Homo sapiens: one gene and its partners. The protein of the gene in region 1 purifies or fractionates together with the protein of each later gene. This does not show direct contact. Each region holds a gene or a part of one and is shown on either strand. Other genes may lie near its edges. The genes, in order: DDX28, METAP2, RPUSD4 and FASTKD2.

Region 1 (8,103 bases):
AGAGTACTTGTCCGGAAGCATCCCTCTTGTCTTGTGGGGGTACAAAGCCTTACAGGAATTTGCTGGGACTCTGGGAAAGGCAGTACAGCATAGACAAATGGTTTATCAATTTGGGAGGGCCCAAGTATCACCTGGGGGAGTTTACAAAGAGTATTCTCAGGTCAAACTTTAGAGAGCTTAATCCCATCTGGAGTGGGGCTCAGGATTCTGTTATTTTTTTTGAGACAGAATATCAGCTCTGTCACCCAGGCTGGAGTGCAGAAGTGCAATTTTGGCTCACTGAAACCTTCGCCTCCAGAATTCAAGCCATTCTTGTGCCTCAGCCTCCCAAGTATTTGGGATTACAGGCGTGCACCACCACATTCAGCTAATTTTTTTGTATTTTTAATAGAGATGGGGTTTCGCATGTTTACCAGGCTGGTCTTAAACTCCTGACCTCAGGTGATCCTCCTGCCTCAGCCTCCCAAAGTGCTGGCATTACAGGCGTGAGCCACCACACCCGGCTTTTTTTTTTTTTTTTTTTTGAGATGGAGTCTTGCTCTGTCCCCTAGGCTGGAGTGTAGTGGTATGATCTTGGCTCACTGCAACCTCCGCCTCCCAGGTTCAAGTGATTCTCCTGCCTCAGCCTCCCGAGTAGCTGGGACTACAGGCGCGTGCCACCACGCCGGGTTGATTTTTGTAATTTTTTTTTGTGTATATATATATATACACATATATATATACACGTATATATATATACACGTATATATATATATACATATATATATATACGTATATATATGTATGTGTATATATATATATACGTATGTATATATATATATATATATATATATATACGTATATATATATATAAAGAAAATGCTATATGGTTATTTTTCCAGTTTTGTAAAACCGTTTAATCATCTCTCCTCTTTCTCGGCTACCGAGTTGGGATAGAAGGCAGAACCTGAAAATGTACAAGCAAAACTTCTGTGTTCGTCTACCCTTTACTTTTCTGCCAGTACCTTCCAGAGATTTCGCCAAGACGCCCGTTTGTCTTGGGCATTGTTAGAGAGTAACTCTGTCTACTGCTAGTCACATTTCCTTTCCTTTCCTTTCCCTGGGGGCTTAATGGATACCTTTTTGGGGGCAGGAAATACAAACTAAATGTTTATAAATGAAAACATCAACTGAAAGAGCCTTTGTCCTAGATGTGGAGGTTTGGTGTATGAATCCTCAGAAACTACTGAATTCCGCCCCGGTGCTAATTATTCTTAGGGGAGGCACATAAAAACATCATTTATTGTTAGAAATCATGACATGATACAAAGTCAAAATCCACTTGTGTCTTGCTAAAGACTACAGAAAGCCATGCTCAGCAGCTTCTTCTCCAATGCTGGCCAGCAGCGTACCTTTCCAAGTCACAAAGCAGTTCATCCCGCCCTCAAGGAGCCGACAGGGCAGCCCAGAGCCTCCCACTGACAAGTGTGGTCACCCACTCAAGATACTGGGAAAGATCCCTGTTCTAGCATCACATTTTAATCAGATTTGTCAAAATCAGGTTGCTTGGGGCAAAGGCTCTTTCACCGAGGATGCTAGTCCTGGAAGACTTCTCCTTCGGCGAGCCGCCAGCTCAATCTTCTGAACCAGGCTCACATCCCAGGGATGGGTCACAAAACTGATGACGGTGCCTGGCACCTCGCTCCCCACACGGCCCACTCTCCCTGCTCTGTGGATGTAATCTTGCAGCGTTGGGGGGAAATCATAATTGACAACCAGCTCCACACCAGTGCTGTCCAGGCCCCGAGAGGCTATGTCTGTGCAGAGAAGTATGTCTCGGGAGCTCTTCTGGAAGGACTGGAAGATTCCTACCCTCATCAAGGCTGGCATTTGCCCCTGCAACCTTAGGTGTTGGATTTTGTGGTCATCCAGAATATATCCCAGCCAGTTCACAGTGCTGGAGCTATTACAGAACACCAGAACAGTTCCTGAGGGACCAGTCCTTTCTGCTCTGTCACGATGCTTGAGGATGTGCACCAGCTCGGCCACCTTATCTGCTCCCTTCAGTCTCAGAAATGTCTGTTTCACATGAGGCATGATACAGTGGAGCTTGGAGCTGGTGATGGTGGTGACAGCATCTGGGCTGGCGACTTTATTCAGCAACTGGCCTACACCTTCGGGAAATGTGGCTCCTACCAGCACTAACTGAGCTTTGGGATTGAAGGGGTCTTCCAAGTCAGCTGGGCCTTCTGCTATGTGGCTCTTCTCTAAGATGTAGTCCACCAGTTCCAGGAAGCTTTCATCCAGCAGTGTGTCTGCCTCATCCAACACCAAGAAGGAGAGTTGCTCCAGACTGATCAGTCGACTTTTCAGGGCCTTCCACAGAGCCCCTGGAGTGGCCACAAGCACATCTGCTGAAGGCTGTCTGGACAGCTGCAGCCTGATCCTACGCATGCCGTGGCCTCCCTCCAGGTCCCGCACCAGCAGGCCCAAGGAGCGGCCCAAGGGTTGGGCCACAGCCCGCACCTGTTGGGCCAATTCTCGGGAAGGAACAAGGACCAGGCCTCGGGGCGCGGGGATAGGAAGGGAGTCCAGGCTTGGCTGGCCCAAGAGCCGTTGAAGCAGCGGCAGGAGGTAGCTGAGAGTCTTGCCACTGCCGGTTTCTGCGGCGCAAACGACATGGCGGCCGCGAAGTAGTGAGGGGATGGTGCTAGACTGCACGGTTGTGGGCTGAACGACTTCAGGCGCAGCCTCCTGTAGTGCGTGCAGCACACGGGGCTCCAGGCCCAGGTCAGCAAAGCTGCCCTTAGACGAGAGCTTTCGCACCGCTGGCGCCTCCTGTTGCGCGCGCTCGATGGAGAAGTGGTCCCGACGCGCGCGTCGACTCTTCCAGCCTTGAGAGGCTAGCGGCGCGCGCTCCCAACGGCCCAGTGTGAGGCGCGCCGGCTGGTTCAACTCCGGCCGCCGCGCCGAAACCAGCAGCGGTCCGGGTCGAACCAGCACCGGCCTCGGGAGGTTCCGCCGCCTGCTCTGCCGCTGTTCCAACTGCCGCTGTAGAGCCACTGGGATGCGCACCACCGGCAGGGGTTCGTCGGGACTGCGGACCGTGAGGCCCCGTCGCGGCGCCAGGAGCAACCGAGTCACGAGGGAAAAGAGCCGCACCGGCCGCGTTAGAGCCATGTTTCCCTTAGTGCGGGAGAAGCGCACATCAGTGACGTCACGGACGCGCCGCGACCTCGCGTACGGTGGCTGGCGAGGCTCAGTACGGTGTGTGGAGCTGGAGCACCGTGAGGAAGAAGCGAGGTTCTTTTTAAGAGTTCAGCTGCGAGGTCTGTAGCTCCGAATAGGGGATGGCGACATCCAGACCCGGCCAGCCTTGGGGAAGGGCGCGTCGTGGAGGCAGGACTGGAGGCTGGCGATACGAGGCGGCAGTGGGGCCTTGACCCAATGGACCATGAGGGCGGAGGGCTTCTGGCGATTGGTTACCTGGTTCCTGGGATTCTCTTTAGTTGTTCCTCATTGCCCTGAGATAGCTTGTCCCGTGCTGGTATCCGAGGTTGCAGCTGTTTTCCCAGATGTGTTCCCTGCGCAGGGTCTGGTAATCCGTGTTTATTGAGAGTTTGAATGAATGATCAGGCCTAGGGGCCGAGACAGGGGTCTGAAGTCATAGATCTGGGCTCAACCCCTCACCCTCTCTGTCTGTGAGCCCAGAGTGCAAGCTGATGGCTTTCAGCTTCTTCTCTCTCTCAAGTGGGAGATAAGGTCTTCAGGTTTTATTTCAAGTTGGGTCATCTTTTCTTCACAGTTATTTTCCTTCCTTTTAAGCCAAGGTTCACTCTCTACTCCCTCGTCACGCGTCCCAACTTCTCATCCAGAACCCACCCCTCTTGCAGCCCGCTCAGCTCCACTGGCTTCCCCGTCAGAAACCTGAATTACCTAAAATAGTAGTAAGAAGGGTGCTGCGACCCTACAAAGTGATCAAGTACGTGGCTTATCATGTAGCCCTGGTCAGGCAGAATATTTTACCTGAATTCAGATATTCGGGTTGTAAAAACAAGAACTATACGAGTCACTTTTTTTTTTTTTTTTTCTGAGACACAGTCTCGTTCTGTCACCCAGGCTGGAGTGCAGTGGCGCAATCTCGGCTCACTGCAACCTCCACCTCCTGGGTTCAGGTGATTCTCCTGCCTCTGCCTCCCAAGTAGCTGAGACTACAGCCGTACACCACCCACGCCCGGCTAATTTTTTCTGTTTTTAGTAGAGACAGGGTTTCACTATGTAGGCCTGGCTGGTCTCGAACTCCTGGCCTCAAGCGATCTTCCCACCTCGGCCTCCCAAAGTGATGGGATTATAAGCGTGAGCCACCATGCCCAACAGATACTTCTTGAACAGATCTGGAAAATGGGTGTCAGATCTTTTCTGTAATTTGCAGTGCCTGGGGTGGGAGATAAGGTAAATATTTATGGATTAACTCTCTGGGAGGTTCGTAACATCTGGAGAAAACGTTTTAGTTTCATCAAATACCAATGAAAAGATAAAAACTTTGCTTTTTTTGGAATAGTATGAGGAAAAACTTTCACAATTTTAAGTACACTCTACCCTTGTGCTACACAATTAGACTTTCTGGAGAGTTACCAGATAAATCAGAGGAAGAGAGGCTTTTTTTCTCCACAAGAAAATATCTGGAAGTAGGAAGAGAAAGTTTTGAGTAGTGATGGGTGAATGAACAGTCATTGGATAGGGTAGTGGTTCTAAAACAAGGGTGATTTTGCCCTTTCCCTCCCACCATATTTGACAATGGCTGGATACTTTTTTTTTTTTTTTTTTTATAGACAGTCTCACTGTGTTGCCCAGGCTGGAGTACAGTGGTGCGATGTCAGCTCACTGCAGTCTCTGCCTTCTGGGTTCAAGGGATTCTCCTGCATCAGCCATCTGAGTAGCTGGGATTAGAGGTGTGCGCTACCACTCCCAGCTAATTTTTGTATTTTTAATAGAGACAGGGTTTCACTACGTTGGGCAGGCTGGTCTCAAACTCCTGACCTCATGATTTGCCCACCTTGGTCTCCCAAAGTGCTGAGATTACAGGTGTGAGCCGCTGTGCCCGGCCCAATTCTATGCTACTTTTATGATTCTTTCCAAACTCAGGGCTTCTCCTTATCCAAATAGTTCCTTGGGGCCAGGCTCATGCCTGTAATCCCAGCTACTCGGGAGGCTGAGGCAGGATAATCGTTTGAACCCGGGAGGCGGAGGTTGTTGCAGTGAGCCGAGATCGCACCATTGCACTCCAGCCTGGGCGACAGGGCGAGACTCTGTCTCAAAAAAAAAAAAAAAAGGTCCCTTGGATGTTTGTCCCAACAGGTTTCATCCATTTCCATGTGCCACTGTTTTTCAGATATCAAACAAAGAATTACTCTGTACAAAGCCAGAACACATATATCAAAGTAATCCTGAAGTATCAGAACAAAATAATAGGTATGTATATGCATTTGGGTTTTTGGGTTTTGTTCAAATATCCAGGGTAGGGTAGCTGGTTAATATATAGTTGTTTTCTCATTATGCTTGAGTCCTTACAATATGATTACCTCAAAATTTCACAGGAGTTAGAGCTTGCCTAAGCCTGTCTGTGTCCGTGGCCACTAATTTCTTCTTGTCACATCACTAGACACTGCCTACCTTTTTTCCCCCTCACTCACAGAGGACATTGATTAACTTCTAAATGTTTTCTGAGATATTTTTATAAGTAGTGCTTTAGAAATAGGAAAGGTATCCTTATTGTGAAAAAAAATCTAAGCTCCTGAGATCAGGAGCTTGGTGTGTTCCTTGGATCTCAGTTAATAATGGTATATTCATTCATTCATTCAATCATTCATTCAACAAATACTTCCTGAGCACCACGCATGTGCCAGGCATTGGTAGTGAGGAAAACAGCCAAAATCCCTGCCCTTGTGGAGTTTACATTCTGATTTAATTGATTTGGGTTAAGGCCTAGACAAGGTCTTGCTCTGTCACCCAGGCTAGACTTCAGTGGTGCCATCTCGACTCACTGTAACCTCTGCCTCCCAGGTTCAAGTGATTCTTCTGCCTCAGCCACCCCAGTAGGTGGGATTACAGGCACGTGCTACCAAACCCGGCTAATTTCTGTATTTTTAGTAGAGATGAGGTTTTGCCATTTTGACCAGGCTGATCTCGAACTCCTGACCTCAGTTGATCTGCCTGCCTTGGCCTCCCGAAGTGCTGGGATTACAGATGTGAGCCATTGTGCCCAGCCGAGAAATTGGTATTTTTAGAAACCTCTCCAGATGTAACTAGGCTTGAGAATCACAGTTATAAATGAAGCACTTTGGGAATTGCAAAGCATTACAGCAATAAAAAGTGCTATTGGTATTACTTTATTGTTCCTCCATTTTCCCACCTGTAGCAGGGCTGTGCGCAGGTAATCATATTTTCAGTCATTATCACTATAGTATTCCTGGACCCTTTGACCTTCCTTCTCATCCAGCTCCCTACCTGCTCTTTGTTTTTTACCCTCTGGTCTACCTTCTGTTTCCCGAGTGATGTTATTAAAGCACAGCTAGGCCTGGTGTGGTGGCTCACGCCTGTAATCCCAGCACTTTGAGAGGCCAAGGCGGGCAGATCACGAGGTCAGGAGTTCAAGACCAGTCTGGCAAACGTGGTGAAACCCTTTCTTTACAAAAATACAAAAATTAGCTGAGCATGGTGGCAGGCACCTGTAATCCCAGCTACTCGGGAGGCTGAAGTGGAAGAATTGCTTGAACCCGGGAGGCGGAGGTTGCAGTGACCTGAGATTGTGCCATTGCATTCCAGACTGGGTGATAGAGCAAGAGTCTATCTGAAAAAAAAAAAAAAAAAAAAAGCACAGCTATGGCCATGTTACCCTTTGACTCAAAAGCCATTCATGAATCCTTGTTGCCTGCAGATTATTTCCTAATCAGTATCCAGAATTGGGCTCAACCTCTTCTGTTGCTTTCTTATGTGAATCTTGTTCACTCAAGTGATGGCTCCATGCAAGTTGGCCAAAGGGCTTGTAGTCCTTTACTGGGTAAGCCAGAGATTGGAGTAGTCATTCGTCTCCTCTAAAACCAAACTTGAGTGATAACAAAGCACTTTAAATGCACTTTGGCTGGGATAGAGTTCTTCTGTGACTGAAGCATGGAGTGGATCATAGCTCTTGTTGCACTTGGTCCATTAACTTCTTGTTTTTTTTTTTTTTTGGAGATGGAGTTTTGCTCTTGTTGCCCAGGCTAGAGTGCAGTGGCATGATCTCAGCTTACTGTGACCTCCGCCTCCCGGGTTCAAGTGATTCTCTTGCCTCAGCCTCCCAAGTAGCTGGGATTACAGGCATGCGCCACCACACCCGGCTAATTTTGTATTTTTAGTAGAGACGTGGTTTCTCCATGTTGGTCAGGCTGGTCTGGTCTCAAACTCCCGACTTTAGGTAATCCGCCTGCCTTGGCCTCCCAAAGTGCTGGGATTACAGGCGTGAGCCACCTCACCCGGCTGCCATTAACTTCTTTTTACAGCAAACACTAAGCATCTACCATATGCCAGATTGTATGCTCTCTGATGAGGATCTGGTGATGAACAAGCCACAGTGCCTATTTTCACCTTACAGTGAAGAAGGCATATTGACAGATAGTTGCTCTTCTATTAATAGTTGCCAGGATAGCTCCATGCCAGGACAGGAATGAGCTCAGAGATGCCTTTACCCTGTTTTGGGAGATGTTGGTCAGAGAAGGCTTCCAGGAGGAGGTGATGAGGTTCTAAAAGTCTACAGGGAGTCAGCCAGGTGGAAGAATAGGGACGTGGCCCCTGGGCAGGGACAGCTTGTTCAGAGATCCCATACTGAGAGAGAGCAGGCCAGGCTGGGGAACTAGAAATATTTAAGAATAGCTGAAGCTTAGCATGGGGGAGTTCTGAGGGCAGGAGGCAGGTGATGAAAGAGGCTTCTATGGAAGGTGGAGACCAGACCTTATATTTACTGTGTTAAAGAGTGTAGACTTAATTTTACAGGCAGTAGGGAAGGCGTCCAGAAATGGAACTATCATGTTTTGCGTATCATATCTTTGCGTTTGGAAAGAGCCCTTTGGCTGGAAGGAGCATGGA
Region 2 (7,511 bases), on another chromosome or scaffold:
TGGAAGGATCTAGTAATGATGGACGCCTAAATGCAAAGAAGGCTATTCCACCTCCACCTGGAGACCAGGGGAATCACTACCAAGCCCCCAAAATTCTGATTCATAAAATTTTAGCCTGAAAAATTTTAAAGGAAGGCATAACCAGACATTCAGTGGTCTACAACAGCCCAAATGGCATCCAAGATTAAAACTTACATGTTGTGATTCTCAACCCAACCTTTCTTCCTCAACACTACGAAATCTCCCTTCAGCCTCCTTAATATATTTTCGGGCACCTGATGATGTTTGGTTGTGGCACTTACAGAAACTCAAAACAAGCAGGATATTTTATACAAATCTGATCGTACAATATAAAAGTTATTATTAATAATAAAGTCTCACCATATGCACACATCTTAAATAACGGGATTCCTCATTAAATACTCATCAAGAATCTCATAATTTAAAAGCTGGAAGGTAAATTACAAACAACGCTTACCCTACCACCACCATGGCACCACTTCGGCCATTCTTGACAGAATTATTCTTTAAATTATGCAAGTTTTAAATCATAAAATTTTTAGAAACTCATCCCTAACTTGCAGTAAAATGCAACCAATTCATATCGACATCCCTTAGCTAACAGCTAAAGAAAATAAAGGATTGTTAAACCAAAGTTATTAAACTAATAAATAATTATTAGTTTCACTAAATTCTGCTTCTATTAAGCCTAAGTTTATTTCCCTAACATATATCAGGACCTTAAGCAACTTCAAACCTACTCTTCAAACCTGTCAGTGAATAACCACTTCTTTTTTTTTTTTTTTTTTTTTTTGAGACAGAGTCTCACTCTGTTGCCCAGGCTGCAGTGCAGTGGCACAATCTCAGCTTACTGCAATCTCCGTCTCTTGGGTTCCAGCAATTCTCCTGCCTCAGCCTCCGGAGTAGCTGGGATCACAGGTGTGAGCCACCACACCCGACAGAATAAACACTTCTAATATATCAATTAACATTAACTTAAGACACTAACGTCCTCTCTTCTTCTTCTTCTTTTTCTTCTTCTTTCCAGTTGCTCCATCTCCATCGCCATCTCCATCTAAGAAAAGACATTTCAAGTACATGTTCATTTAAACCTCATAAGCAGAGGGACAAAGCAAGTACAAGGAGACAAGTATTTGCTCTATTCAATAAATGAACAAACGTTAGTTTATTTTATCTTGTTTACATTTATTCTTTCACTGAAATAAGAAATAGGAAGCAGCTACCAGGTGTGGTGGCACATGCCTATAGTCCCAGCTACTAGGGAAGCTGAGGTGGGAGGATCACTTGAGCCAAGGAGTTGGAATCCAGCTTGGGCAACATAGTGAGACTCCAACACTAAAAAATTTAGAAACAGGAAGCAGCAGTTTAGCAAAGTGGGAGGTAACGTGATCTAGGACTTACGTGGGTTGAACCATATGAAAATGCCAATACTTGACCATTTTTGGTCAAAATTGCCACTTCTTTTCTTTCTTTTTTTGAAACAGGGTCTAGCTCTGTTGCCCAGGCTGGAGTGCAATGGCGCAATCTCAGCTCACTGCAACCTCCGCCTCCCAGGTTTGAGTGATTCTCATGTCTCAGCCTCCACCTCCCAAGTATCTGGGATTACAGGTGCATGCCACCATGCCCATCTAATTTTTTTTTTTTTTTTTTTTAGTAGAGATGGAGTTTCGCCATGTTGACCAGGCTGGTCTCGAACTCCTGACATCAAGTGATTTGCCAGCCTTGGCCTCCCAAGTCCTGGGATTATAGGCGTGAGCCACTGTACCCAGCCTCAAAATCACCATTTCTTATGTTCAATCTTATGAAATTATCAAAAACCTAGCAGGCAGAAGAGAACAGTAGAAGTACAAATATTAGGCTAGGTAAAGTGGTTCACACCTGTAATCCTAGCACTTTGGGAGGCTGAGGCAGGTGGATCACTTGAGCCCAGGAGTTTGAGACCAGTCTGGAGGACATGGTGAAACCCTGTCTCTACTAAAAGTACAAAAAATTATCCAGGTGTGGTGGTATGCGCCCATAGTCCCAGTTACTTGGAAAGCTGAGATGTGGGAGGATCACCTGAGCCAGGGAAGTCAAGGCTGCAGTGAGCTGAGATCGAGCCACAGCACGTCAGCCTGGGTGACGGGAGGGAGATCTTGTATCCTAACAACAACAAACCCAAAACACAAATATTGCTGACTTATTCATTATGGATTTTTAGATTCAAAAGCCTAACAAAAGGCACACGAAAAATTATAATCTAATTCACATATCGTGCACTGTAACGTTAACAGTAACCTTCTTCACCCCATTAAATGTTTGTTGGGCTCTTAAGTGCCAGGCAATAGGGACAGAAAAATAAGATAGTTTCTGTTCTGGAGAAACAATAGTTTTTTCCAGACTAAAACTGGTTATGAATCTTGAAGTATTTGTTTTAGGTTGTGACTAGTGTATGTAGCACTATACCTAGTGTATGTAGCACAACCTAAAACAAATACTTGAAGATACATCACCAATTTTAAACATATACTAAAAATCTTTCCATCTGGGTGACCTTGGGCAAGTTATTTAGCCTCCCTCTACCCTGGTTTCTTCATCTTTAAAATGGAACAAAAAGGTCCTTCTTTGATACTTTCATCCTTTTGAGGCTAATTACCTTATTCAATGTCCAATGTCTGTATTCAGTACAGAAAAACAGCCACCATTTATAGAACTTTGTGCCAGGATGGCAGCAGAGCCAGGATCTGAGTATTAATCTATATATGTTTATAGTTCCAACCATTATACCATGTTGAAATTTGTGCTTTTACATGTCTTTTCTTCACAGTATCCCAGCATATTCTTCATAGGCAGAGATGGTTGGTTTTTTTGGTTTTTCTGTGACAGGGTCTCACTCTGTTGCCCAAGCTGGAGTGCAGTGGCAGGATCACAGCTCACTGCAGCCTCAATCTCCCAGACTCAGGAAATCCTCCCACCTCAGCTTCCTGAATAGCTGAGACTACAGGCACGCACCACTATACCTGGCTAATGTTTTTTAATCTTTTGCAGAGACAAGGTCTAAGTTGCCCAGACTGGTCTCGAATCGCATCTCAGCCTCCCAAAGTGCTGGGATTATAGGCATGAGCCACCAGGCCTGGCCAGCAGAGGCTGCTTATGTTTATTTGTGTTACTACTATGCCCAAATCAGTTGATATCTGTTGAATGACAACTGGAAATCATATTTTAAAAAAAAGAGTCTCAAGCTTTTAAGCTCTGCCTTGCACTATCTAGAAACATTAATTCTAAATGAACCATAGACCTAAACATAACAGCTAAAAATATATAAAACTTCTTGAAGAGAACACAGAACATCTTTGTGACCTTAGAGACAGCAATGACTTAACTTTTTAGACAGGACACAAAAAGCACTACCCATAAATTTAAAAAACAGATAGATTGGACTTTATCAAAATTAAAACTGTCCTATAAGCAATACCATTAACCAGGTGAATAGCCATCCCATAGAAATATCTGTAAAACATATTATCTGATAAAGAACTTGCAACCAGAATATACAATGAACTATTACAATTCAATAGGATGACAAATAACCCAATAAAACATGGACAAAAAATGTGAACAAACACTTTACCAAAGATAAAGGAAAAAGCAAATAAAAACATGAAAAGATGCTCAATATCATTAGGGAAGTGCATATTAAAACCACAATGACAAAGCACTACATACCCATTATCAAAGACTAAAATTTTAAAACAAATACCAAGTCCTTACAAGGATACGAACAACCTGAAACTCTCAACCATTGCTAAGAGGAATGCAAAACAGCATAGCCACTTTGGAAACCAGACAGCTTCTTAGGAGTTTAAACACATACTTACCATATGACAGGCAACCCAGTCCTATTTACTCAAGAGAAATGAAAACATATCTACACATAGACCCATATGCAAATGTTCATAGTAACTTCGTTCACAACAGACCAAAACTGTAAACACCCCAAATATTGTTCAATGTAAAAGGGTAAAACATATTAGGAATACTACTTGCAATAAAAAGGAATGTGCTATTGATAAATGCACAACTCGATGACTGTCAAAAGTATTATGCTAAGTAAAACAAGCCAAACACAAAAAACTACATACCGAATAATTCCATTTATAGGATACTCCAGGAAAGGCCAAAACTAGGGTCAGAAAACGTATCAGTGATTGCTAAGGGTTAGGTATAGTGCAAGAGAACCAACTACAAGAGACACAACTTTTTTCTGGAGATGGAAATGTTAAATGGAAATAGTCTGTATCTTCCGTCGTGGTAGTAGTTACACAATTGCATACTTTGTCAAAACTCACCAAACTATACACTTAAAAAGGATGACTATTGGGGCCAGGTATGGTGGCTCACGCCTGTAATCCCAGCACTTTGGGAGGCTGAGGCGGGCGGATCACTTGAGGCCAGGAGTTCGAGACCAGCCTGGCCAACATGGTGAAACCCTGTCTCTACTAAAAATACAAAAATTAGCTGGGAGTGGTGGCGGGCACCTGTAATCCCAGCCACTCAGGAGGCTGAGGCAGGAGAATCGCTGGAACCCGGAAGGCAGAGGTTGCAGTGAGCTGAGATCGTGCCACTGCACTGCAGCCTGGACAAGAGTGAGACTCCGTCTCAAAAAAAAAAAAAAAGAGTGGTGACTATTATTTTAGGGAAATTATATGTTAATGAGCCTGACTCAAAATGTATTGAATGAATTACCTCCAGCACACTGTCAGATGACCACAGGATCAACTTTTTATACCAATACCACAGTTTCCAATTCAGCACATCTAAAATTAAACTTAGTACCCTCTTCTTTGCCTGCAAACCTCTCCCCCAATGTCTAACTGGCTCTTTCCCAACTTCACTATTTCAGTCAACAGCACCAACATTCTGTCACCCAAGTGCAAACTCCCAGAGTCCACTAATGCCTTACTCCTGCTCCCAGAATGCAAGTCTCCAAGTCTTTTGAATTCTGCTTCCACACTACTGTTCACTGGATCCTTCCTCTCCATGCCTATTTATGACTATCAGTTTACATCTTCATTACCATATGCCTGGGCTATTTCTAAGAGGCCTCCAAAATGATCTCCTCCTTGCCTTTCCTACACACTTCCTCTCCTCTAAACAACCCTGTATACAGGTAAAGCCTAAATTATTATTTCATAACATTCCTTTTTTGTTAAGAGACAGGGTCTTACTATGTTACCCAGGTTGGAGTGCAGTGGCCAGTCACAGGTGTTTTCGTAGCATACTGAAGCCCCCTGGACTCAAAGATCCTCCCATCCCAGCCTCCCAAGTAGCTGGGATTACAGGCACCAGCCACTGTGCTTGGCTCATAACATTTCTTAAAAATCCTCTAAGGCTCCCTCAATCTATCACCTCATATGGCAAGCTTGTATTACCACAATGCTTCAAATGTTTTCTCAGCATTACCCCAACCCAAAATAGTTCCTTTGTTTGGTTTTACTCAAGTTCTATTCCTTCCAATGAGCCTTCCTTCGGCATTCAGCCCACACTTATACCACCAAATTTCAATAAATTTTATTACAGGTACCCAAATACCTTTTCACTTCTAGGTTTTGTCTGTCTACCACATCCTTAGTTTTCTTTATTTTTTCTTATTTTTTGAGACAGAGTTTCACTTTTGTTGCCCAGGCTAAAGTGCAATGGCGCAACCTCCACTGACAGCAACCTCCACCTCCTGGGTTCAAGCAATTTTCCTGCCTCAGCCTCCCGAGTAGCTGGGATTACAGGCACCCACCACCACACCTGGCTAATTTTTTGTATTTTTAGTAGAGATGGGGTTTCACCATGTTGGTAAGGCTGGTTTTGAACTCCTGACCTCAGGTGATCCACCCACCTCAGCCTCCCAAAATGCTGGGATTACAGGCGAGAGCTAACACACCTGGTCTAGTTTTCCATTAGGAGAAAGATCTTGAAACACTAGCTTTCCATTCCCTCAAAGACCTAACAACAGGTAAGTAGTATTGACTGACTCTGATTACTGAAATAACTACAAATATTCCTAAAATCTTCTTTAATACATTGAAGATTTCCAACCTGATGGGCAACTTTGTAGAGATGTAACAGAACAAGATAACACTTCAAGATTAGCACTGTGATTTTTTTTGGGGGGTGGGGGGAGGTGGACGGGTATAGACATAGGGTCTCACTATGTTGCCCAGGCTTGTCTGGATTACAGGCATAAGCCACCACACCCAGCCAATATTTTTTAACTAGCCTGACAGGCCCAGGAAGCATTATGATACCATATACACAGTGGGTCTATAGCAATCTATTATATTGCCTTGAATTTACAAAACATTTTCTTGTGAAGAGCTCAAAATAAGTTCATAATCTAAAGCATAAGCCAATGTAGAACAGAGGTTTAAGGAAGAGGAAAAGCTAGTAATTCCCTTGAATCTTGGCACTTTTTTCCACCAAATGTTCACTATAAGCTTCTTGAAGGCAGAGAACATACCACTCTAAAGGAAAACAACTACTCTACATTACCCTAACACAATAATTACAGCCCCAACTAATGGTTAAAGACCTAACCCCAGGCTGGTGGTGCTTGAGGGGGAGCAGATGTTCTCAGTAGTAGGCAGCTACAAATAAAAAGAATGGGAAAGCCCCATTTTTCCTCCGCCAAAAGAGGCTGGAAAAAAGTTAAGTTTTCTTACCTGTCTCTTCCTTCACTGTTTTACTGATAACATCAATTAGCAGTTGCTGTCTTTAAAAAAATCTTATTGTACCCAAACACCCAGAAGGAGCTAGGGTCAAGGAATTTATAATAAAACTTAGTGCACTCCTATACGATTCTTTCAGAATGAAAAGAGTTAATTTTGGTATAGAGAGTAAAAGGAACAGGCCGGACACAGTAGCTCAAACCTGTAATCCCAGCACCTTGGGAGGCTGAGGTGGGCAGATTACTTGAGGTCAGGAGTTCAAGACCAACCTGGCAAAACCCCATTTCTACTAAAGATACAAAAAAATTAGTTGGGCATGGTGGCAGGCGCCTGTAATCCCAGCTACTCGGGAGGCTGAGGCAGGAGAATTGCTTGAGCTCGGGAGGTCGCAGTGATCCGAGATCACGCCACTGCACTCCAGCCTGTGCGACAGAGCGAGACTCGGTCTCAAAAAGAAAAAAAAAAATAGAGAGTAAAAGGAACAAACGTGCAGTCAGGCACTAGGTTTGAAATTCTGGCTCTATTCTACACATATTAGCTATGTCACTTTGGGTAAATCATGTAACTACCACTTCCCTATCTGTAAAATGAGATGGCTGGGTAAAGCCATGAAGGGCTGGGTAAAGTCAAAATAAATAGGAAAAGACAGTCCATTACCAAAAAACAAAATGGATATCTAAGCACAAGTAGGTTACTTTGCTTGGTTTTGTGAGGTTAAAATGTGAATGTATGTGAAAATAACCTAGGAAAGTATCTAGTACATAGTAGTTCTTCAGTAAGTATTAGTTAAAT
Region 3 (7,511 bases), on another chromosome or scaffold:
CCCCAGATACCTTCAGCCTAGTAAATATTCAGTTTGCCAAATTAAAGACTAGATTTACATCTTGGAGGAGACCATATTTATATATGAGAATATAAATCATCTGTTACTTCTCCAAAATGTATCCTGACTAGCTCCTACTTTTCTACATTTTCCAGTTCTTTTATTTCCATCATCTGTTCCTCTAAGATTGTTCTCCTTTTTGTGAGACAGGGTCTCACTCTGTCACGAGGCTGGAGTGCAGTGGCACAATCATGGCTCACTACAGTCTCAACCTCCTGGGCTCAGGTGATCCTCCTAGCTCAGCCTCCTGAGTAGCTGGGACCACAGGTGTGCGTGTGCCAACACACCCAGCTAATTTTTGTATTTTTTGTAGCAACAGGGTTTCACCACGTTGCCCAGGCTGGTCTCGAATTCCTGGGCTGAGGTGATCCGCCCGCCTCGGCCTTTTCGGCCTCTCAGAGTGCTGGGATTATAGGTGTGAGCCACCGCGCCCAGCCTCTTCTCCATTCTTGTGGGTATTCCTGTTCATCTGTTTCCCTGAATTAATGTCAATTATCACTATTTCCTAAGTGTCACATTCTTGTTCCTTTTTCTTGACTAGCATGGTTTACTAGAAACAGAAATAACAGCAAAAATATTTAGGTCTTATATAAACAAATATAGTCATCTCGTCTGTGCTTTCAAAGTTAAATTTATTATGCACAGTAATGGGTACCATGGAGACAGGGAAAGGGCTAGAAAGTGGCATCATCTATACAGAGGGAACATATAAAGACTGTCCCGGGGTGTACCCCCCTAACTGTGCTGTCACTCCAACTCTGTCAGAAAGAAAAAGTAGTGTGAGGTGTATTTGTTTGCAAGAAACAAGGTGGAAACTAGATGGACCAGCTGAGCAGGGAGGCCAAGGTCATTTCCATCTATCCCTAATGGTGTTCAGTATAGCCCTCTCCTTCCTGAGACCTAAGAACAGAAGATACGCTTCCACAACAGAGATTTTTGATTTTTTAATGGCAGCACTCTCATAACTACATTCACGGACCAACCAAAGCCATCTCCAAGCCTAGAAAGGATACATACTACACGCAGCGAAAATGCCAACCACTGATCCAGAATTTTCAAGATGGCACCTTTCCCCAAACTTCTATACCATTCATTAAACATAGACTGCAAACTGCTAGCCTGTAGACCAAATTCAACCTCTAAGTATTATTTGCTTAGGTGCCTAAGCATCTTTAAAAATTTGATTTAGTTGGCAATACACTGGGAGGTTTCACATAAATATCTAGGTTTCCAGCTTCTCTGAAGAAATGAGAAAATCCATTCCCACATGGCAACAACCAGCTGGAGCTAACAGCTGTTAGACAGCATGCCGCTCCCCGCTACTGCCTTACACCCAGCCAGCTTCATGTGTGCATGTTATCTGCCTGCCATTCACATCGGTTCTCCTTGCTCAGCAAATGTCCCACCTCAACCTCACACTCAATACCCTTATACAGGTTCCCTAATCAGAGTTCAGTAGGGCACCCACACTATAGCTGGGCAATCCCTGGATGCTGTGATATTTGTTAACCATTATGTTCTTTCCAACCACGGGAACCTTCCTAAGAGCTCAAGAGCTTCACTGCTGGATAAAAACAGTTCCTGATCCCGGATTCTGACCTTTAGTTTTCCTTTTCCAGTCACTGCCCCAGTCTGCCTGGCCCTGGGCTCTGTTCCATATTGGCAATGAGAGCCCACGGCAGGGAGACTTCCAGCAGGCTTTTCCACAGTGCAGCCAAACTATCAGTAAATAGACTTTGTTCTCCATTAAAAGCCCTGTAGCAGCTGAGTTGCTTTACCTTATCCCACCTGGCTCTTACGCAGTCTGTTCCAAGTGAGAAGTTAGCAGAGTCCTGTAAACAAAGAACAGTTCAGGGGCCAACCTGCGCTCCCAGGTGCCAGGATGCTCTCAGGGTCTTCACTGTGCTCCCAGGTGCCAGGGTGCTCCCATGGTCTTCACTGTGCTCCCAGACACTTGGCTTCATTGTTCTCATTTTGATCCTCATTTGGCATCTCTAAACGCAGGCGGTGCAGGGAATGCACAAAGAAGCGAGGAAGTTTGCAGACCAAGTTGAGTTCCTCCTTCCCGGACCCCAGGGCAGGCAGGATCAGCTGCCGGGCGTGCAGGTGAAGGGGGATGTAGCGGGCCTTCGACTGTTCTAGCCCCAGCTTCTTCAGGGTGCCCACAGACAGCTTCTATACAAAGAAAGGACAGACCCTTGAGAGCAAGGCCAACAGTCCACCCTTGACGAACATGCAAGGTCAGGGCACTTCTACTTACAGGGAACCAAAACTAACCCCCTGGAAGACACAGTAATGGAGAGTCTGCTTCAGTGGCATGTCTAAGAACGGCTCAGAACTCAGGTAAGGGAAAAATGACCACACCAAGACATTCTTTTTGGCCAGTGCTTTTTGGCCTAACAAGAGAATGGGCTGTGGTATAAGGATGAAAAGGCTTTCCCTGCGGTTTTTTAGTAGCACCATGAAAAGCTGCTCCCAGCCTTCAGAAACACCCCTCCCCTTGTCCACAGCCTCCCAACAAAATCTGAATAAACAAATGTAACAGTAAGCTTTTCACTAACAGATCCTGCAGTTCCACAAGGACAGTAACCAACTGCTCCTAAATTTCTCTAAAATCAAGATAATGAGCTTGGTATCATGTCTGAAGACAATCAGTAGGCTTTGTTGTAACTCATTTCAGAGTTTTAAGAAAAGGAACGCCTAAGTTCTCTCCCGTATCTGCTGCACATTGGGTCAAATTAGTATTACCTGGGGGGCCAACCTATTCCAGTCTGAGTACTTGTGATCACCAAGGATTGGACAATCCAATCCAAAAGACAAGTGAACTCGAAGCTGATGTTTTATTCCTTAAAAGAGAGAGAGAGAGAAAGAGAGAAAACTCGTGAGGAGCTACAGAAACAATACCAGTATTGGCATCTGCTTCAAATCGTGTTACATCAAAGTGCAGTAAACTGGCCAAGTCCCAACTATAATAAAGTATAACGAATAATATAGCAAACTATAAGTTATGTAGCACCAGCCAGTTTAGGAAGTAAACGCCGTAAATACTCTAAGTACCTCTCCCCACCACAATTCCCTCTTTCCACCATAGATAACCATTATCATGAACTTGCCGTCTACCATTACCCCAACTTTTTAGTAATTTTACTACATAAGTAGTATTGATTTGCACATTATTTGAATTGTAGTAACATATACATAAAATTTCCTGGTTTAACCACTGGCATTATACTAAATGCCAAGTCAGTGACATTAGGTGTATTCACACTGTTTTTGCAACCACCACCACCATCCATCTCTAGAACTTTCTCAGCTTCCCAAACTGAAACTCTGGACCCATTAAACAACAATTCCCTATTTATCTCCCCTCCTTTACCCTACCCTAAGATTTTGGCAACCACCATCTACTTTCTGTCTCTATACATCTGACTCTTCTAGGTACCTCACATGAGTGGAATCATATAATATTTGCCCTTTTGTGCCTGGCTTATTTTACTTAGCATAATGTTTTCAAGGTGCATCCATATTGTAGCATGTGTCAGAATTTCCCTTCCTTTAATTCTTTTAAAGCTGAAAATAACATTCTATTTTATGTGTATGCTACATTTTGTTTCTCCATTCATCCCCCAATGGTCACTGGGATTATCTTCACATTTTGTTGCTGTGAATAACGCTGCTATGAATATGTGTGCAAATATTTGATTTTTGGGGTATATACCCAGAAGTGGAACTGCTGGATCTTACAATAATTCTGTTTAATCGTTTTGAGGAACCACTCTACACAGTTTTAAATAGAGGCATTCAACCTGTTTGTATTCTTCTGCTAGCCACAACCATCTCTCTGGGAGTCCCCGGCCTCAGATCAGCACCAGAAGCACATTCTCACACAAGTCAGCCACACTACTAGCTGCTCAGAACGAGGCCCTGGACAAAACCTGGTGGCACAGGGTTTTGTGATCCCACTGCGGAAAAGTGACACTCTCACCAGTGATGGGCTGGAGCTCCACGAGGGCGGAGGAGAGAGTGCTGCTGAGCACCTGGTACTGAGTTACAGCAACTTGCGCATTCCGGCTGCGCCGCACTTTCACCATTTTCCCATCGTCCATGCGGTAGCTCGGGGACAATGTCATCTGAAGCCAAAGAAATCAAGATATGATTCCCAAGGAAGAGCAGCAACCCATGCCTCAGGGAGGCTGCTCGCTCACCTTGTGGTGTTGCTGCTGGCCTTGCGCCTCCTTCTCCACAATGGGGATGTCCACGACTCCTGCTGAGGGCATGGGGACATGCACAGTGATGGCCCTGGGGGTGACACAGATCACTGCTTTAGCCAACCAAGCCAGAGAAGAACTCCTAGATTTGGCCACTTAGAGGATTTCACGCTGGACCTTCTGCACTAACATGTGATTTCTTATGATTGAAGGATCGTGCAAGATTCTCTTGGTGTAATGCTTAGCCTGAGAGCTGATAGATTTCACAAGCTTATCTTTTTTACTACTAAAGTCATACATGCTAATTGTAGAATATTTGGGGTAAAAAAAGAAAAAAATTACATTAATAACATGGTCTTTCCAGTCTTTAAAAATGGATATGTACAGTTAAAATAAAATTATGGTAATATAGTTTTGTATTTTTTTTCAAATAATAAAAGATTGTAGATTCTGACTGCATGGTAAATGAACAAATGAATAATTGGATGAATGAACCTAATAAAACATTCAGAGAACCGTTCCTGGCTCATTTGCCACATAGGTAAAACAGGAGGGAACTGTACCCGAAGAAGTCACAGGGGACAGGCGTGGTGGCTCACACATGTAATCCCAATACTTTGGGAGGCCAAGGCGGGTGGATCACTTCAGGTCAGGAGTTCAAGACCAGCCTGGCCAACATGGTGAAACCCCATCTCTACTAAAAATACAAAAAAAAAATCAGCCAGGCGTGGTGGCGCGTGCCTGTAATTCCAGCTACTTGGGAGGCTGAGGCATGAGAATCGCTTGAATCCAGGAGGTGGAGGTTGCAGTGGGCCAAGATTATGCCACTGCACTCCAGCCTGGGAGACACAGCAAGACTCCGTCTAAAAAAAGAAAGAAAGAAGTCATAGGTACCACAACCACAACTCAATAACTCATTCCAAATCACTTCTGTTGGTGTTCTCCCTCCCATGACCTCATGACCTCACAGACAGGTAGAAGACTGTTTAATCTGTCTGTAAATTTATGCCTCTTTCAGGTCAATGATGGAAAAGTCCATCTGGGTACCTGGTGGTCGGTTGTATAATCACTAACCACGGGGTCAAAATCCTACTCACACACACTATTTCACAACGCAGACACTCCACTTCAGTTTCAGCTACTATCTGGTACATTTTATCGTATTTTACAGATTTTGTAGATCTTCTGTGACAAGAATGTCCTTCCTAATGATATGACACTACAACTCAAGAATGTTCCATCAGCAAGACCCAACTGATTGATTTCAATTCCTCCATGAACCTGATACCGAGAATGGTTACCAATTTTGAACCTTAATGGACATTTTTCACAAATAACATAACATGTATTTTATAGTCTTAATATTTTGATTGCTTGAATAGAAAAATAAGTCTCTATTTTTTATTTTTTAACTTTTCCTATGAACTAGGTACTGTGTTAAACATTTCACAAGAATCAATCTTATTTAACTATCTCATAAATCCTACTGTTTCCATTTTTCAGATGAAGAAAACAAAGCTTATGGACATTTAATAACCTGCCCAAGGCCCCACAGCTGTTAAATGACACAGTTGAGAGTTGAACACACATCTTTTTGAGGTCTTAGCTACTGTCCTAAATTCCTCCATTCTCCATAATCTTATCATAGTTCTTAAATTTGATTGTATATCAAATTTTAAAATACAGATGCCAATCCCCACAACCACCACACTTACGAATGAGAACTTCTGTGGGTAAGTCTCAATCATACATATTTTTAAAGGGCTCCTCAGATTCACAAAGTATCTGCAAAATCTGTAATCTAAAAAGGACTAACATTCAAAATATAAAATGAATACTTACAAATCAAATAGAAAAGAATAAACAACCTGGGCCAGACACAGTGGCTCACGCCTGTGAGCTGTAAGCGCTGTAATCCTAGCACTTTGATGGACAGATCACTTTAGGTCAGGGGTTCAAGACCAGCCTGGCCAACAGGCTGAAACCCCATCTCTACTAAAAATACAAAAATTAGCTGGGCATGGTGGCATGTGCCTGTAATTCCAGCTAGCTGAAACATGAGAACCACTTGAACCAGGGAGGAGGTTGCAGTGAGCCAAGATTGTGCCACTGCCCTCCAGCCTGGGTGACACAGCAAGACTCCATCTCAAAAAAAAAAGGCCAGGCACGGTCTTAAATAAAAAAAAATAATAATAATAAACAACCCTGTAGAAAAATAGGCAAAAGAAATAATCAGTCTGTTCCCAAAAGGGAAACTCAAATAGCCAATAAACATGTAAAAAACATGTAAATTGATAGCCAATATCACTGTTATACAAGGAAATAGAAAATATCTTTTTTTTTTTTAACTTATCACAGTGGCAAACCCTTTAAAAATGCTTTGGCTGATAAGGGGAGGTGGGTACTCACCACTGCTGGTGGGAATGTAAACTGATAAAAAACCTTTGTGGAGAGCAATGTGAGTACTATTAAAATTTAAATATACAAACCATTCAGCCCAGCGATTCAATTTTTAGAAATTTATCTTAAAAATACATTCACATATTCTTTGCAATAGGCTCTAAAAAATGAGAAATTACCTAAATATCCATCCATACAGCGGTATTTCACAGAGCAATTAAAAAGGAGACAGCTCTAAACGTATGACACAAAATGCTCTAAGATATATGATCCAAGTGAAAACTGTAGGGTACAAAACTCTGTGTGAAATACACTAGCATACAGTAATATGCTTATATATGCTCGATAACTCTGGAAGTTTACAGAAGACACCAGTCACAGCGATTGACGCTGGGGAAGGCAACTGCACAGATGGGGAATAGAGGGTTTCTTTTTTGCTCACGCATCTTTTTTCTATGAAAAACACTGAGGTAAACCTCTATGTGCTAACACAGGATGATCCCCAAGACATAGAGGTGAGCAGAGGAAAAAAGTATAATGTAAATTGTACAATGTGATATATATATAGATATATATGTGTACATACATATGTACACATGCATATACTGCATACACCAGACACGCATATACTGCGTACACCAGACACGCATATTCTGCGTATGCCGGACACGCGTATACTGCGTACGCCGCACACGCGTATACTGTATACACTAGACATATATGTAAATGCGTTGAGTAAGAACCAGAGGAAAAAAAACCAAACTGATTACATGGGTTGTTACCTCAAGAGAAAACACTAGAATGGCAGAATGGGTGGATTCTCCAGGAGTTTTTCACATGATC
Region 4 (7,511 bases), on another chromosome or scaffold:
CCTCTGCCTCAGAAGCTTTATTGCTGCCTAGAGAAACCTGCTCAGGGTGGGGTGACATGTAAAACCAGCCAGCAGTATACACAGGTGTTCCTAGTGGGTCTTAATAACATTAAGTGTCTGTAACCCTGAGTGAAATTCTTTTTAAATTCTTTTTTCTTTTTTGAGACATGGTTTCACTCTGATATCCAGGTTGGAGTGCGGTGGCACAATCTTGGCCCACTGCAGCTTCGACCTCCTAGGCTCAGGCGATCCTCCCACCCCAGCTTTCTGAGTAGTTGGGACCACAGGTGCATGCCACCACACCCAGTTAATTTTTCTATTTTTTGTACAGGTGGGGTTTTGCCATGTTGCCAGGCTGGTCTCAAACTCCTGGGCTCAAACGATCCTTCTGCCTTGGCTTCCCAAAGTGCTGGGATTACAGGTGTGAGCCACTGTGCCCGGCCCTGAGGGAAATTCTTTAAAAGCAAAATTCACAAACTTTTAAAGCAAAGTATCCAATTTTTATTGATTCTATAACATATATATGTGCATATATTGTAGTATCTTTATCAATCAGGATTTACTTGCTGATAACAGAAACCACTGCAACCTAGTTTAGACACAATGTGCTTTTGTTAGTTTCTGGCCATGCACAGAAGCCTCCTGCTTACAAGATGAATGGAAAGGCTGAAGGAGCAGCCTTTAGTCTGACTTCCAGGAATGACTCTCAGAACACTATCACATAACTGGCTGTCCAGAAGAGATGCTATCTCTGCTTACAGCCTGGAAGCTGGAAAGTCATGAAGATGCTGCCCATTGCTGGCTCCAGAGCCACATTATTTTAGCCACAATCCCCACCAGCAAAATGGATGCTCCTCGTCCTGCCACACCACACCCTGGGGTCTCTGTTATTGCTCTTCTAGAAAAATAAAATGCTCTGTGGCTGTTTGTTGGCAGAAACATTACCTCTATCTCATTTGGCCTTCCCAGTTTCAAGTAGGTACATCTGCATAGAGGAAGCTAAGTCACATTTGGAATTCAAGCTGAAAGGGGCTCTGGGAAATGTAGGCTTCAGCTTTTTTTGGATCCACCAGTGAGTCACGGCACACCTGTGTGCACAAATGGGTTACAAGTGTGTTAAGAGATAGCCATCTTGGACCGGGGGTGGTGGCTCACGCCTATAATCCCAGCACTTTGGAAGGCCAAAGGCGGGCAGATCGCAAGGTCAGGAGATCGAGACCATCCTGGCTAACATGGTGAAACCCTGTTTCTGCTAAAAATACAAAAATTAGCCGGGCATGGAGGTGGGCACCTGTAGTCCCAGCTACTCGGGAGGCTGAGGCAGGAGAATGGCTTGAACCCAGGAGGCGGAGCTTGCAGTGAGCTGAGATCACGCCACAGCACTCCAGCCTGGGCGACAGACCACGACTCCGTCTCAGGAAAAAAAAAGAGATAGCCATCTCCTGCCTTCTGGGCAGCCACTGCCCTCCTGGCCAGGAAGCTCCACACCTAGGTCTCCCTACAAGTCAGCGCAAAACAGGGTGGAGTCTGATGGTCCACCTCTCAGGCCCTGTGAATGAAGAGTATGAGAGAGATCTGTCCTTTGCTGCCTGGCTGTGATGTGCTGTGTGAAGACAAGGCTGTGCCACGTCCCTCGCCAGCTACCTAAGTGGCTTGCTGCTGAGTGAGCCACTGACCATCATAACTGCTGGGTAATTTCATGGAAAAGTGCAGTCAGTTGGGATTTGAGGAATGCCAGCTCCTCATAGGTAGTTCCAAGTAGATGCCCCAAATCTCTATCTTACAGAAACTTCTATTTGCTTAGAGATGTCCAAGCCAGTTGCAGGGTGACTACCCTCACAACACATGACATTCTATAAATTGGAATGTCATTGTTATTTGGAAATACTTGATATGAATAGTTCAATTGCATTTGAGGTCCATGTGTATTATCACAAAAAAAATACCATCACATTTTGTCAATGACAAGAAGAGTTGTTAGGCTATGTATATATGAAATTTTCAATTTTTGAATGTTTTTTAAAAGTTCTAAACTGTTTAATCAGCTTTGTGTAAAGAAAGTTTCTATTCAGTGGTAACTACTGAGAATTCGGAGAGCTGGTAAATGTCTCAATCAAGAATTGAGCTGGGCACAGTAGCCTGTACCTATAATCAGTCCTATCTACTTGAGAAGCTGAGGCAGGAGGATCCCTTGAGCCCAGGAGTTTGAAGCTAGCCTGGGTAACATAGCAGGGCCCCATCTTTAAAAATCTAAAAATTAAAATTAAAAAATAATAAAAAAGAATTGCATGTAGCTATTTCAAGAATACAATTTTATATCTTGTATCTAGAGCAAGATCAACCTTTTCATTAGGGATTCTGAAAAAAATATTTGGATATCTCACACAAAATGAGCATTTAATATATTTCCTAATTTTTTTCTATGTGTGCCATAGATCAGTGGTTGTTTAGGGGACAGAGAAAAAAGCAAAGACAGGAACCTTTTAGAGGTGATAGATATATTCATTATCTTGATTGTGGTTTCACAGATGTGTGTGTGTGTGTATGTACGTCAAAACTGACCTAACGGTACACTTTAAATATATGCAGTTTACTGTATGTCAATTATACTATAATAAAGCTATTTTTTAAATTATGGGAGAAGAAAACCCCACAAAGTACATTCCAGAAAGGTATTAATTTACAGTCTACCAACAGCTTATGCAAGTGCTTGCCTCATTATACCTTCATCAGCACTGTAATTCTTAAAAGAAAAAAAACTGCTAATTTGAAAGGCAAAACCATCTCTTCTGTTTCAATGTGCATGTCTTTACAAGTAGACTGAACTTTTTTCATGTTCATCAGCTCTTTGCCCATTTTTCTTTCATTGACACAAAGCAATGAAGAATGCTAACACTAGAATGCTAGTAAAAGAGGGATGCCTTTTTATCTGCCAGGTTAACTAGTACAAACTGAAAATTACTACCCTAAAAGGTGGTCATAAATATTCACAAATTTGTCAAATCCTTTGAAGAGGAGTCATAATTAGACACTCAAAACTGATGCACACTCAACATTTAAAGACAAAACCTTAGTTCCTTTAATAACAGAATATCTGCATCTTGTTCTGAAGCTTATAAGGTTAAATCACTTGGCCAAGTATACAAAACTAGAGGTTGTCCAATCTGGAACCAGAAGCCTGATCTCCTGGGACACAAGCTGAAGAGCAGGTGAGGATGAAATGATGTGGAACCAATGGCATAGCTGAGACTTCAGGAAAGGAAAATTCTTTGAGCCTTATCTTCCTCGTCCATAAAATGAGGGAAGTAACAATTAAATAATCACTAAATTTCCTTTCAGCTCTAACCTTTTCTAAATGCAAGCTGGATAAATTGATACAACCTGGCAGCTGTTGTCATATTGCTATAGTTTTTGTATTTTTTTTTTTTTTTTTTTTTTTTTTTTTTTGAGACAGAGTCTCGCTCTGTGGTCAGGCTGGAGTGCAGCAGGACCATCTTGGCTCACTGCAATCTCCACCTCCCGGGTTCAAGCGATTCCCCTGCCTCAGCCTCCCCAGTAGCTGGGATTATAGGCATGCACCACCATGCCCGGCTAATTTTTTGTATTTTAGTAGAGATGGGGTTTCACCGTGTTGGCCAGGATTGTCTTGACCTCCTGACCTCATGATCAGCCCACCTCGGCCTCCCAAGTGCTGGGATGACAAGCACGAGCCACCGTGCCCAGCCCAGTTTTTGTATTTTCTTATAAGCCTATGTTAGCTCACATTCAAACTCCAGCCCTCCCCTACTCTGTGTAGCCTTGGGCAAATACCTATCCTGATTTTAGAGATGAGGAAGTGAAGACACAGAGAGAATCATAATAGCAGCTACACCTCAAAGGGTTCAGATCATGAAAAGGCAGCACACAAATGAATACTTAGCAGTGCCCGGCACATACTAAGATGTCTAGTAATTGCATGTCTGTGTGCTTGGGGGCAGAATAACACCAACTTGCATGGAACCCATGCTGTAAGTTCCACAAGAGACCATGCCTATTCATCACTATATCCCCAGCGAGCCAAATACTAGGTAGACAGGCATATTGAACAAAATAGTTGAATTTGGACAAATATTTGAACAAAGAATGAACACACATAATCGAAAAAATAGTCCTCAGGTCTGATTCACAACACAATTCAGCTATATATTTAATTTAAAAGACTTCATGAAATTGTGGGAGGGGTAAGGGGGAAAAAAGAAAGAGAAAGGAAGGACCCCAACAACAGTAAGACTCCTTACCATCTACATCTCATCTGTGTTTCTCTTATTATAACCCATGAAATATCTCTACCTGCAGTGCTTATTACAAATACAAATACCATCCTCACTCATTTTCAACAGCTACCTCACTAATTCTTACACACTTGACAACTTTAGAACTTTGTCCAATTATTATTTGGCCAATGCTTGAAAATGATTTAAAGGCATAACCCCAAGTCTTAGAACAGCTTAGAGCAGGAGTATAAATATTCAGATTCCAAAGACAAGGACTACTACCCACATCAACCTGCCTGTGACACCTCACAACTAAGAAACCAGTTTTTAGTAGATCAAAGATGAAAAGGTGAAACGTACAGCTCACAAATCAAATATCTGGGCACTAGAGGGAATAGGTGTGGTTGGAAAAATAACCCTTCTGGAATTTTCTCAGCATATTTTTAAATGGCAGTAACAACATTTCTTCCACTCCTAAAATTAATTTTAATAGTGAACTGAGGTAACATTTTTTGTCTTAGCAGATAGCTCAATTCCATTGACAACTGACTTGTCATCTTTATTAATTTTTACAAATGCATGTCTCCTAATATGAAAAGGTTGATTTTCACTTTATTGTGTGCTTTGCACATTTACAGCAGCAACAGGAAGAGCTTCTACTGAATAGATTTTAGTCTTCAAAAATGTGACTGCATCTTCCATCTCTAGTTTGTCCATCTCCCAGTTATTGACCTTACCAAAGAAAGAGGAAAATAATCAGTTTGTGAGACGATACTAACAAAAGAGCTAGTTTAGAGATCCAAACATAGTAAAGTAACATGAGGACAATAGCTTTTTGAAAGCAAATGTGACCTTATAACTACTCATATTTTAAAGGCATAATAAGACTACATGCTAGGGTTTAAGAAAGCTTTAACTGTGAAAATTATACAAATTTTAAAGGTCCTCTAAATGGTGCAAAAACTGCTTTCTTGAGAAAATCTTCCTTAGAATATATATAATCAGCAATATAAAAAACAAAGTCTTAAATAGTAGCCCACTAAGAGAAAGGAGTCATCTTAATCTCAATAGTCCACACGTAATCCATTTCCAATACTAAAGTATAATAATAGAAGACTTGGAATGTTTACATCTTACATTATGCGCAGGACCAAATGAGTGGCATTTAGATAGATTCCAACAGCAACATATATATAAATGTATTTGTAAGGTTCCTACTACCTAGAAACATCAGAAGAGGCTGTTCAAGAGAAGCTGTGGGGTACAAAATAAAATTGAAGCATAAGAGGGAAGAGAAAGACCCATCTTCTTAAAACCATCCAGCCTTTTCTGGCAACAAACATCCTGTAACAGCTTCACACAGGCCATGAAAACAAAGCTTTAACATCTTTCCTTCCCTTGTTCAAGATAACCTGGAAATTAAATATGGTTTTGTGTATCTTAAATATGAAAATATATTATTTGCATTCTTCTTCTTAGCAAAAAAGGATTAAAGCTGACCAGAACAACATTTGTAAAAGCTCTAGTAATGACAGTAATCAGCTGAGCAGAACCCAAATCGTGTACTAGCAATGTTCTTTTTCAAAGAAAACAGTAACTAAAGCACTCATTCCAATAATGCTGACAATTCCTCTAGTCCTAGTAACCAGTCTCAACCACAAGATTCCTGGCAGCTGTTAGAATGTACATCAGTAATTAAAGAATATTTCATTTGCATTTTTTTCTCACCAAGATCACATGAAAACCCATTGCATTCAAATGCCGCATTTTCATAGCAAGGAATCCTCTGGGGTGGCTTGAACCCAAACAATAAGCAGATCTGGAAACACATAGCACAGCTACTCTGAAAACAAAAATAAACAAAACAAGAACAGTTATTGATATTACTATTTAGTCTTGCTGCATTCTTGTTCTCTGGAGATTTCCAAGTTGAGCTCTCCACCGACCACAATCCTTGATATTCCTGTCTTAGTCCTTCACTTCTTTTACTTGGCCTCTGCAGATATTCCACTATACAAGGCTACTTTATAAATCAAAAATATACAACATTATACACAGTTACCTCTCAGTTCCCTTTAAGGATGGCTACATTTTTGAAGAGGAAAATTTTCAGACATGAAAGCACCAATTTTAAGGGTTTTCTGTGTAGTGCTGATTTCTGATCTGAGTATAATTATTTATTCTACCAGTAGTAGTAACGGTGTAAATAATACCAAATAGTAAATGCTCTTCTTACACATATCATCTCCCAGAGAAAGCAGCATTTAAAAAACAGAAATAGGAGTTTAAATACAAGAAAGAAAACACCAAGAGAAAGGCAAGACTGTTAAAATAAAATCTGTAAATATAACGAAAATGTGGAAGGTGTAATTTGTTTTTTCATTGTTCCTGGCACTTTGGAAATACTAAGTTTACTGGGAGAAAAAAAGAAAAAAAAAAGACATTTATATCCTTACTGCCTTCACCTATACTCTGGCTGTTATAAGACAAATTTTATGTTTTTAAAGGAATGCTCACATTCTTCACTTCTCATGACTTTATGCTGAGAACAACTGTTATTTTATTATGCCAGAATAGCGGAGTACCCGAAAAAGAAAACTGATCTTGGAATGAGGTCAGAGAGAAAGCCTCTTCTGAGGGGAGATGGGTAGCACTAATAGGAAAGACAGCGGTTGAAAAGATGGCCAAGAAATAAGCTAGATGCATTCAGAAAGAGGTGAAAGTCACAGAACTGTGTGTGAATGAAGAGGGATGGGCAGATAAGAGCTTGGATCCCTACAGATTTTTTTGTATGTTTCTATCATATTTATGTGTGTGTGTGTGTCCAGTGGAGTTAACAGAAGATACAAGTTCCTTGGGGTCAGGATCCATGTAGCAGAGCTTTTACATAAAGGGTAACTGACCCACGGGTGTGTGCAATGATGGCATGATCTTATGCATCTACTGAAGAGGCAGGATGTTCTCTCATGGTATAGCATCATATTTCTCCCCAGAGACACTCTATTTGTAATGTGTGAGCCAAAGAAACAACTTAGGATTAGCTTCAATGTGCTCTAACCCATACAAATACAGTTTAATTAAAAAACTACGGTTTCTCTACCTCTGGAAAAGTCTTGGTGGTAGAGCAAAATATTTATTGGGTATTTGATTTTTGTAGAAGCCTCGAGTCTTTATTCTTTATGATCACTATTATATTATCTTGTCCAAAGTCTACACTGCATTGATAGTTTCAATTATATTAATATTGTTTTATTGAAC

The links.
Region 2: the proteins of DDX28 (region 1) and METAP2 purify together in Homo sapiens (affinity purification with mass spectrometry; 2 studies listed by BioGRID and IntAct, with this or other methods). This does not show direct contact.
Region 3: the proteins of DDX28 (region 1) and RPUSD4 purify together in Homo sapiens (affinity purification with mass spectrometry; 2 studies listed by BioGRID and IntAct, with this or other methods). This does not show direct contact.
Region 4: the proteins of DDX28 (region 1) and FASTKD2 purify together in Homo sapiens (affinity purification with mass spectrometry; 2 studies listed by BioGRID and IntAct, with this or other methods). This does not show direct contact.

Annotation. Positions count from the first base shown.
Region 1 is NC_000016.10:68,020,044-68,028,146, forward strand, and holds DDX28 (probable ATP-dependent RNA helicase DDX28), read right to left. Parts: upstream 3,190-8,103; 5' UTR 3,160-3,189; coding exon 1,537-3,159; 3' UTR 873-1,536; downstream 1-872. UniProt on the Homo sapiens protein: Plays an essential role in facilitating the proper assembly of the mitochondrial large ribosomal subunit and its helicase activity is essential for this function. May be involved in RNA processing or transport. Has RNA and Mg(2+)-dependent ATPase activity.
Region 2 is NC_000012.12:95,476,779-95,484,289, reverse strand, and holds part of METAP2 (methionine aminopeptidase 2), read right to left. Parts: intron 1,076-7,511; coding exon 1,010-1,075; intron 1-1,009. UniProt on the Homo sapiens protein: Cotranslationally removes the N-terminal methionine from nascent proteins. The N-terminal methionine is often cleaved when the second residue in the primary sequence is small and uncharged (Met-Ala-, Cys, Gly, Pro, Ser, Thr, or Val).
Region 3 is NC_000011.10:126,201,423-126,208,933, forward strand, and holds the end of RPUSD4 (pseudouridylate synthase RPUSD4, mitochondrial), read right to left. Parts: intron 4,360-7,511; coding exon 4,266-4,359; intron 4,191-4,265; coding exon 4,046-4,190; intron 2,907-4,045; coding exon 2,809-2,906; intron 2,236-2,808; coding exon 1,996-2,235; 3' UTR 674-1,995; downstream 1-673. UniProt on the Homo sapiens protein: Catalyzes uridine to pseudouridine isomerization (pseudouridylation) of different mitochondrial RNA substrates. Acts on position 1397 in 16S mitochondrial ribosomal RNA (16S mt-rRNA).
Region 4 is NC_000002.12:206,789,157-206,796,667, reverse strand, and holds the end of FASTKD2 (FAST kinase domain-containing protein 2, mitochondrial), read right to left. Parts: intron 6,097-7,511; coding exon 5,982-6,096; intron 4,986-5,981; coding exon 4,866-4,985; 3' UTR 479-4,865; downstream 1-478. UniProt on the Homo sapiens protein: Plays an important role in assembly of the mitochondrial large ribosomal subunit.